2 linked regions of the Homo sapiens genome follow. The protein of the gene in region 1 purifies or fractionates together with the protein of each later gene. This does not show direct contact. Each region holds a gene or a part of one and is shown in the gene's direction. Other genes may lie near its edges. The genes, in order: TULP4 and STXBP4.

Region 1 (3,825 bases):
CAGCCCTTTGGGAGGCGAGGTGGGTGGATCACCTGAGGTCAGGAGTTGGGGACCAGCCTGGCCAACATGGCAAAACCCCATATCTACTAAAAATACATAGCTGGGTGTGGTGGCGCTCACCTGCAGTCCCAGCTACTGGGGAGGCTGAGGCAGGAGAATCACTTGAACGCAGGAGAATCACTTGAACCCAGGAGGTGGAGGTTGCAGTGAGCTGAACTCCTGCTACTGCACGCCTGGGCAACAGAGCAAGACTCTGTCTTAAAAAAAAAAAAATTAGGAAATGATCCTTCATATGATACTCAGATTCACTAGAAGATTCTTTTCATTGTTTTTTCTACCACATTTTACATGGTTCTATTTACAGAAACCTAATGTGCATACATTTCTTATACACATCTGTTGCATGACACTTTCCACACTATCCATCCCATAATCATGAATAGACCTATTCAGAGGCCTAGGCACTGCAAGTCCTCAATGGAGGTTTTTCCTGTACCATTGCCCTCTTCTTGCATAAAAGGGTGGGTATTTTATGAATATCACCAGTAAAAAGCTTCTTCAGACATTTAATTATCTGTGATGGTGCCATTGAGGCACTGGTGCCAAGTTTAGAAGGTTCAAAAGTGAGTTAGTCGAAAAGTTCTGACAGTACCCTTAGCTAACAGACAGCAGCAGGCTGCCCTCAAGAACCCATCTCCCTTGTGCGAGCAGGCCAGCTTTCCCCAAGCAGACACGTCTCTGTCTCTGGCAATTTGCATTTTGTTTACAGAAGGAGACTGGATGAGTCCAGACGTATTGCTTATCCTGATCTGGTTTAATGGCAGTGTTTTTGTAAGCAGTTCCTTTTTCTAATTTTCTTCCAGTGACAGGAGCATCTGGTGTCCCTGAGAACAGCCCACCTTGTACCGTGAACATCCCTATTGCACCGATCCACAGCTCGGCTCAGGCTATGTCCCCCACGCAGAGCATAGGGCTGGTGCAGTCCCTACTGGCCAATCAGAATGTGCAGCTAGATGTCCTGACCAACCAGACGACAGCTGTAGGGACAGCAGAACATGCAGGTGACAGTGCCACCCAGTACCCAGTCTCCAACCGGTACTCCAATCCTGGACAGGTGATTTTCGGAAGCGTGGAAATGGGCCGCATCATTCAGAACCCCCCTCCACTGTCCCTGCCTCCCCCGCCGCAGGGGCCCATGCAGCTGTCCACGGTGGGCCATGGAGACCGAGACCACGAACACCTGCAGAAGTCAGCCAAGGCCCTGCGGCCAACACCGCAGCTGGCAGCTGAGGGGGACGCAGTGGTCTTTAGTGCCCCCCAGGAGGTCCAGGTGACGAAGATAAACCCTCCACCCCCGTACCCAGGAACCATCCCCGCTGCCCCCACCACAGCAGCACCCCCGCCCCCTCTGCCGCCCCCACAGCCCCCAGTGGATGTGTGCTTGAAGAAGGGCGACTTCTCCCTCTACCCCACGTCAGTGCACTACCAGACCCCCCTGGGCTATGAGAGGATCACCACCTTCGACAGCAGTGGCAACGTGGAGGAGGTGTGCCGGCCCCGCACCCGGATGCTGTGCTCCCAGAACACGTACACCCTCCCCGGCCCGGGTAGCTCTGCCACCTTGAGGCTCACGGCCACTGAGAAGAAGGTCCCTCAGCCCTGCAGCAGTGCCACCCTGAACCGCCTGACCGTCCCTCGCTACTCCATCCCCACCGGGGACCCACCCCCGTATCCTGAAATTGCCAGCCAGCTGGCCCAGGGGCGGGGGGCTGCCCAGAGGTCCGACAATAGCCTCATCCACGCTACCCTGCGGAGGAACAACCGTGAGGCTACGCTCAAGATGGCCCAGCTGGCCGACAGCCCGCGGGCCCCCCTGCAGCCCCTGGCCAAGTCCAAGGGCGGGCCCGGGGGGGTGGTGACACAGCTCCCAGCGCGGCCCCCACCTGCCCTGTACACCTGCAGTCAGTGCAGTGGCACAGGGCCCAGCTCACAGCCCGGAGCCTCCCTGGCCCATACCGCCAGCGCCTCCCCGTTGGCCTCCCAGTCCTCCTACAGCCTCCTGAGCCCACCCGACAGCGCCCGCGACCGCACCGACTACGTCAACTCGGCCTTCACGGAGGACGAGGCCCTGTCCCAGCACTGTCAGCTTGAGAAGCCCTTGAGGCACCCTCCCCTGCCTGAAGCTGCTGTCACCCTGAAACGGCCACCCCCTTACCAGTGGGACCCCATGCTGGGTGAGGATGTTTGGGTTCCTCAAGAAAGGACAGCACAGACTTCAGGGCCCAACCCCTTAAAACTGTCCTCTCTGATGCTGAGTCAGGGCCAGCACCTGGACGTGTCCCGACTGCCCTTCATCTCCCCCAAGTCTCCTGCCAGCCCCACTGCCACTTTCCAAACAGGCTATGGGATGGGAGTGCCATATCCAGGAAGCTATAACAACCCCCCTTTGCCTGGAGTGCAGGCTCCCTGCTCTCCCAAAGATGCCCTGTCCCCAACGCAGTTTGCACAACAGGAGCCTGCTGTGGTCCTTCAGCCGCTGTACCCACCCAGCCTCTCCTATTGCACCCTGCCCCCCATGTACCCAGGAAGCAGCACGTGCTCTAGTTTACAGCTGCCACCTGTCGCCTTGCATCCATGGAGTTCCTACAGCGCCTGCCCGCCCATGCAGAACCCCCAGGGCACTCTCCCCCCAAAGCCACACTTGGTGGTGGAGAAGCCCCTTGTGTCCCCACCACCTGCCGACCTCCAAAGCCACTTGGGCACAGAGGTGATGGTAGAGACTGCAGACAACTTCCAGGAAGTCCTCTCCCTGACCGAAAGCCCAGTCCCCCAGCGGACAGAAAAATTTGGAAAGAAGAACCGGAAGCGCCTGGACAGCCGAGCAGAAGAAGGCAGCGTTCAGGCCATCACTGAGGGCAAAGTGAAGAAGGAGGCTAGGACTTTGAGTGACTTTAATTCCCTAATCTCCAGCCCACACCTGGGGAGAGAGAAGAAGAAAGTGAAGAGTCAGAAAGACCAACTGAAGTCAAAGAAGTTGAATAAGACAAACGAGTTCCAGGACAGCTCCGAGAGCGAGCCTGAGCTGTTCATCAGCGGGGATGAGCTCATGAACCAGAGCCAGGGCAGCAGAAAGGGCTGGAAAAGCAAGCGCTCCCCACGGGCCGCCGGCGAGCTGGAGGAGGCCAAGTGCCGGCGGGCCAGTGAGAAGGAGGACGGGCGGCTGGGCAGCCAAGGCTTCGTGTACGTGATGGCCAACAAGCAGCCGCTGTGGAACGAGGCCACCCAGGTCTACCAGCTGGACTTCGGGGGGCGGGTGACCCAGGAGTCCGCCAAGAACTTCCAGATTGAGTTAGAGGGGCGGCAGGTAAGACCTCAGACCAGGTGGCGCTGCGAGCCCAGGAGGCGAGGGTTTCAGTGCTTCGGCCTTCAAGGAGCATTTTTCAAAAGGCCAAATGGGAAATGTGGAAAACAACGAACACCTCTTAGGTGGAGCTCATGGGGTTATGGTTTTTAGTGTGCCCACTGCTGTCTTGTATTTTTTTTTTTCTTTTTGAGACCGTCTCGCTCTGTGGCCCAGGCTGGAGTGCAGTGGCGCAGTCTTGGCTTCCTGCAAGCTACGCCTCCTGGGTTCACGCCATTCTCCCGCCTCAGCCTCCCGAGTAGCTGGGACTACACGTGCCCGCCACCATGCCCGGCTAATTTTTTTTTTTTTTTTGTATTTTTAGTAGAGATGGGGTTTCACCGTGTTAGCCAGGATGATCTCGATCTCCTGACCTCGTGATCTGCCCGCCTTGGCCTCTCAAAGTGCAGGGATTACAGGCGTGA
Region 2 (3,509 bases), on another chromosome or scaffold:
AAGGTTAGTGCATTTCAGAGCAGCAGCAAACTTCTGTTCTTATGGGTTAATTAATCATGTTACTGAAGAATTGATTTGGCACAAGGGAGCTATGTATTGCCACAGAACTCTGAAATTGCAGAAATTATCTCATCTATAAGTAACCCCACTGGAATTGCTTGACTGTTCTGTTTCACAGTGGAGAAATTCATCTTTCATCAGCACACACGAGAAGAGACAACAGGAAGACAAAACAAATTGAGTAGATAATAAAGTTACCTTATAGGAATAGGTAATATAGACAGGTAAGGTCAGAAATTTCTGTGGAATGGAATATGAAAAGATGTTTATGAGCAGATTCTATTTCTTTAGGCAGTTTTATCATTCAGAGAAGTAATCTATGCATTTAATCTAATGCCAGCTTTTATTTTTCTTTGGTGATTACCACACAAAAATAAGAAGTTGGCACCAAATTAAATGCATGGATTACTTCTCTGATAAAAGTACTCGATATAAGGGAAATTTGAAGGAAATAGAATGCATACATACACACACATACACTTAGTATATGTGTGTGTGTGTGTGTGTATATATATATATCTGTGTGTATATACACACCACACACACACACACACACACGTATTGGAGGAATAAGAAATATTTAATAAAATCTACACAATTTCAAAAATATGACCAAATACTGGTGGTTCCTCATTTACCAGTAGAACTCTCTCTACAAATGGAAAGTGAGAAGTCTATGAAGTTACCTTAGTTTTTCCAATTAAGACTGTTCATTGATTGTATTTCTTCTGTCTCTATAAGTACCATATTCCCAATTAGTATTTCATCAGTTATAAGACCCATCATTATTTTGTGTGTAACTGAAAATGAAAAAAAGATTTAAAATATGACTTAGTAGTTAGAATTTTTATCTTATACGCCTTTAAGTAAATACAAGAGAACTGTTTCAGCATAGATTTTTAAAAATCATGTGTGTAAAAGAGAATGAAATATTAATTATGATATTTACAAAGCTCTGTACATTCAGAATTGAACTCTTTCTGCATCTCTTTTTTGAATCAGAGTTGTCATAAACCACAATTTTTCACGGTAACACCCTCTCTGCCATCAGGATAAATAACATTTCTTAAAGGAATATTCTACTGCAGTCTCTGAGATTTTTTTCCCTGTCTTAGACATCCATTCTACAACTCTGATGCTGGCACATTTTTTATCTTGGCAAAAGGACTTAATAGAAAAATTTTAGATAACAATCAGGATTCATACTCTTCTCAATAGTCCTTAAATGGTTTATTGACCAAAAAGTAAAGAAGTAACAGTCCAGTCATATCATGGAAAGAACAACCAAATTCATGCATGCACAGGCAAAGACAACCATATCACTATGACCACCTGGCTGACAGTAACTGCAGGACATCAATTATTGTAAGACACTTCCTGTAATATGTTTAATTCCTCTGACATAAGGATTTATGTGAATTAGGAAGTGGCCCAAGGGTGAAAAGTAATAGGGAAATAGAGAAATAGAACCGATCCAAAGGAAAGGGGGAAAAAAACCCACAAAAAGTGTGATGTCAAGCAAAGCCTATTCTGGAGATGACTTTGGTTCACTCCCACGGGAGAGCCCTAGAGACAAAAAGGTTCTACAGTAGGTTCAAGTCAGAGGCCAGAGAACCCAGAGTATTTATACCTCTGCACCATCAGTTATTGAATGGGGGTGGGGGTGGGGGTGGGTGTAAATTTCCAGGTGCTTCCAGCCTGCAATGCAGTCAAAGCATGTTCCTGTAGCCTGAGGACAGCCGTCCAACAAAGAGGTGCAGGTGCTGAATGTTGAGAGTGAAAGCACAGGGAGCTGTCATGCATGAGAGTGGTAGAGGGATCTGAAAGTGCTAGCAGTGCCTATTATACATCCAAATACTAAAGACGCTTAGATGTGAAAAATGTGTGTCTTAGAATCGATAAAATATGGTATAGAGAATCAAGTCTCCTTGTTCCTGGTTTATCTCATAGCATACTTAAAATTCAGCTAAAGATGAAATGCCTTAACAAGTGAAATGGGCTTTCTGAAAAATTATTTCAATCAAAATTGTGTTAAAAGCTATTTCTAAAAACCCTAACATGAAATACTTAGAAGAGATCAAGTGGTTTGTCCCTGGACATTCAAGCAATTGAATGTCTAAACAATCCAAGACAGATAATTTTGTAGTATTTACTGTGTGAAGTGAACCTTTAAGGCTGTGGACAATGCAAACTCCCTCATGTACCTTGCTCCTTGCCAATTTCAAACAAACCTTCTCACCTATGATATAAGGCTTCCTTAGAATTATTGATTAATTATTTAAGATACAATAAAACCAAAGTATTTTTAAAACACAGTAATTATGTTAGTGCAGGTACATGACATAGATATCCTCAAATATTCTTAGGACATCTATAAATCACCACAAACATTCTGGAAAGCAGTCTTGGAACATCTATCAAAGGCCTTAAAAATTTCTTCTTCTGTGAATTTATCCTCACAAATGACCCCAAGTTTAGACCAAAATAAAAAAATGCTTAAAAGGCTTATTAAAGCATGATTTAAAATAGAAATGATTGCCTAAATTCCTGAAAACAGGGGAATGTCTAAATAAAATATGGTATCTAACATGATAGAAAATGTTTACTAATGTTTAATGATACCAAGAAAGTATCACAATAATAACATCAAGTGGTAATAACAGGAAACAGATCTGTATACAATATAAAACCAACAGTATTGTATATATAAACACCATAGAAGATCTGAAAAAAAATTAGATGACATTATTTGTGATATCTATTTTATTTATTATATTTTTCTGCATACTACTCTACAGTGAGCCTGTCCTTTATAAGAAAAAATGCTAATGATTTATTGTGTATGAAAAAAGTGTATCTGATTTGATTATATATTTTTATTTCCACTTATATTTTCTAGGATTATTTTGCTTTAGAATTCTATGTATAATCCTGTGAAAATTTGTAGTGTTGTAGGGACTGGAAAGATCAGAGATTATGTTATGGCCATGAATGAGGCCTGACCTGCATTGTCAATAACTAAATTGATTATTGTGGAAACAACAAAAAAATTCATTTTTTGAAATGAAAATCTTTATTGAAATAACTATTTTACCATTGTGTGGTCAGATTCACTGCATTTGATGCTTTTTCAGGATTTGTTTTTCCTGCTAGAAATGCTAGAGTTGTCACAGATGTGATATTTATGTTTTCATTGTCTGGGGAGGGCCAAGTTTCATGACAGAGAAAGACTGGGGCCAATTCTGTGATTATGGATGTCAACTTATCTCAGAGCAGTATCATTGGTTGAGCAGTCCTGCAGGACATCTAAGTTTACCGTCTTTATCTTGCCATTGTCAAAGATCCTGGACCTATTTTTTTCTGCCTTGAAAACTTTTGTGCAGTAAAACCAGCAATGGATTTTAGCAGAGTTGATGCATCATTAGGATTTTCACATTAACTCTTTGGAC

Evidence for each region.
Region 2: the proteins of TULP4 (region 1) and STXBP4 purify together in Homo sapiens (affinity purification with mass spectrometry; one large-scale study listed by BioGRID and IntAct). This does not show direct contact.

What each region holds. Positions count from the first base shown.
Region 1 is NC_000006.12:158,500,815-158,504,639, forward strand, and holds part of TULP4 (tubby-related protein 4), read left to right. Parts: intron 1-863; coding exon 864-3,364; intron 3,365-3,825. UniProt on the Homo sapiens protein: May be a substrate-recognition component of a SCF-like ECS (Elongin-Cullin-SOCS-box protein) E3 ubiquitin ligase complex which mediates the ubiquitination and subsequent proteasomal degradation of target proteins.
Region 2 is NC_000017.11:55,167,650-55,171,158, forward strand, and holds part of STXBP4 (syntaxin-binding protein 4), read left to right. Parts: 3' UTR 1-3,509. UniProt on the Homo sapiens protein: Plays a role in the translocation of transport vesicles from the cytoplasm to the plasma membrane. Inhibits the translocation of SLC2A4 from intracellular vesicles to the plasma membrane by STX4A binding and preventing the interaction between STX4A and VAMP2.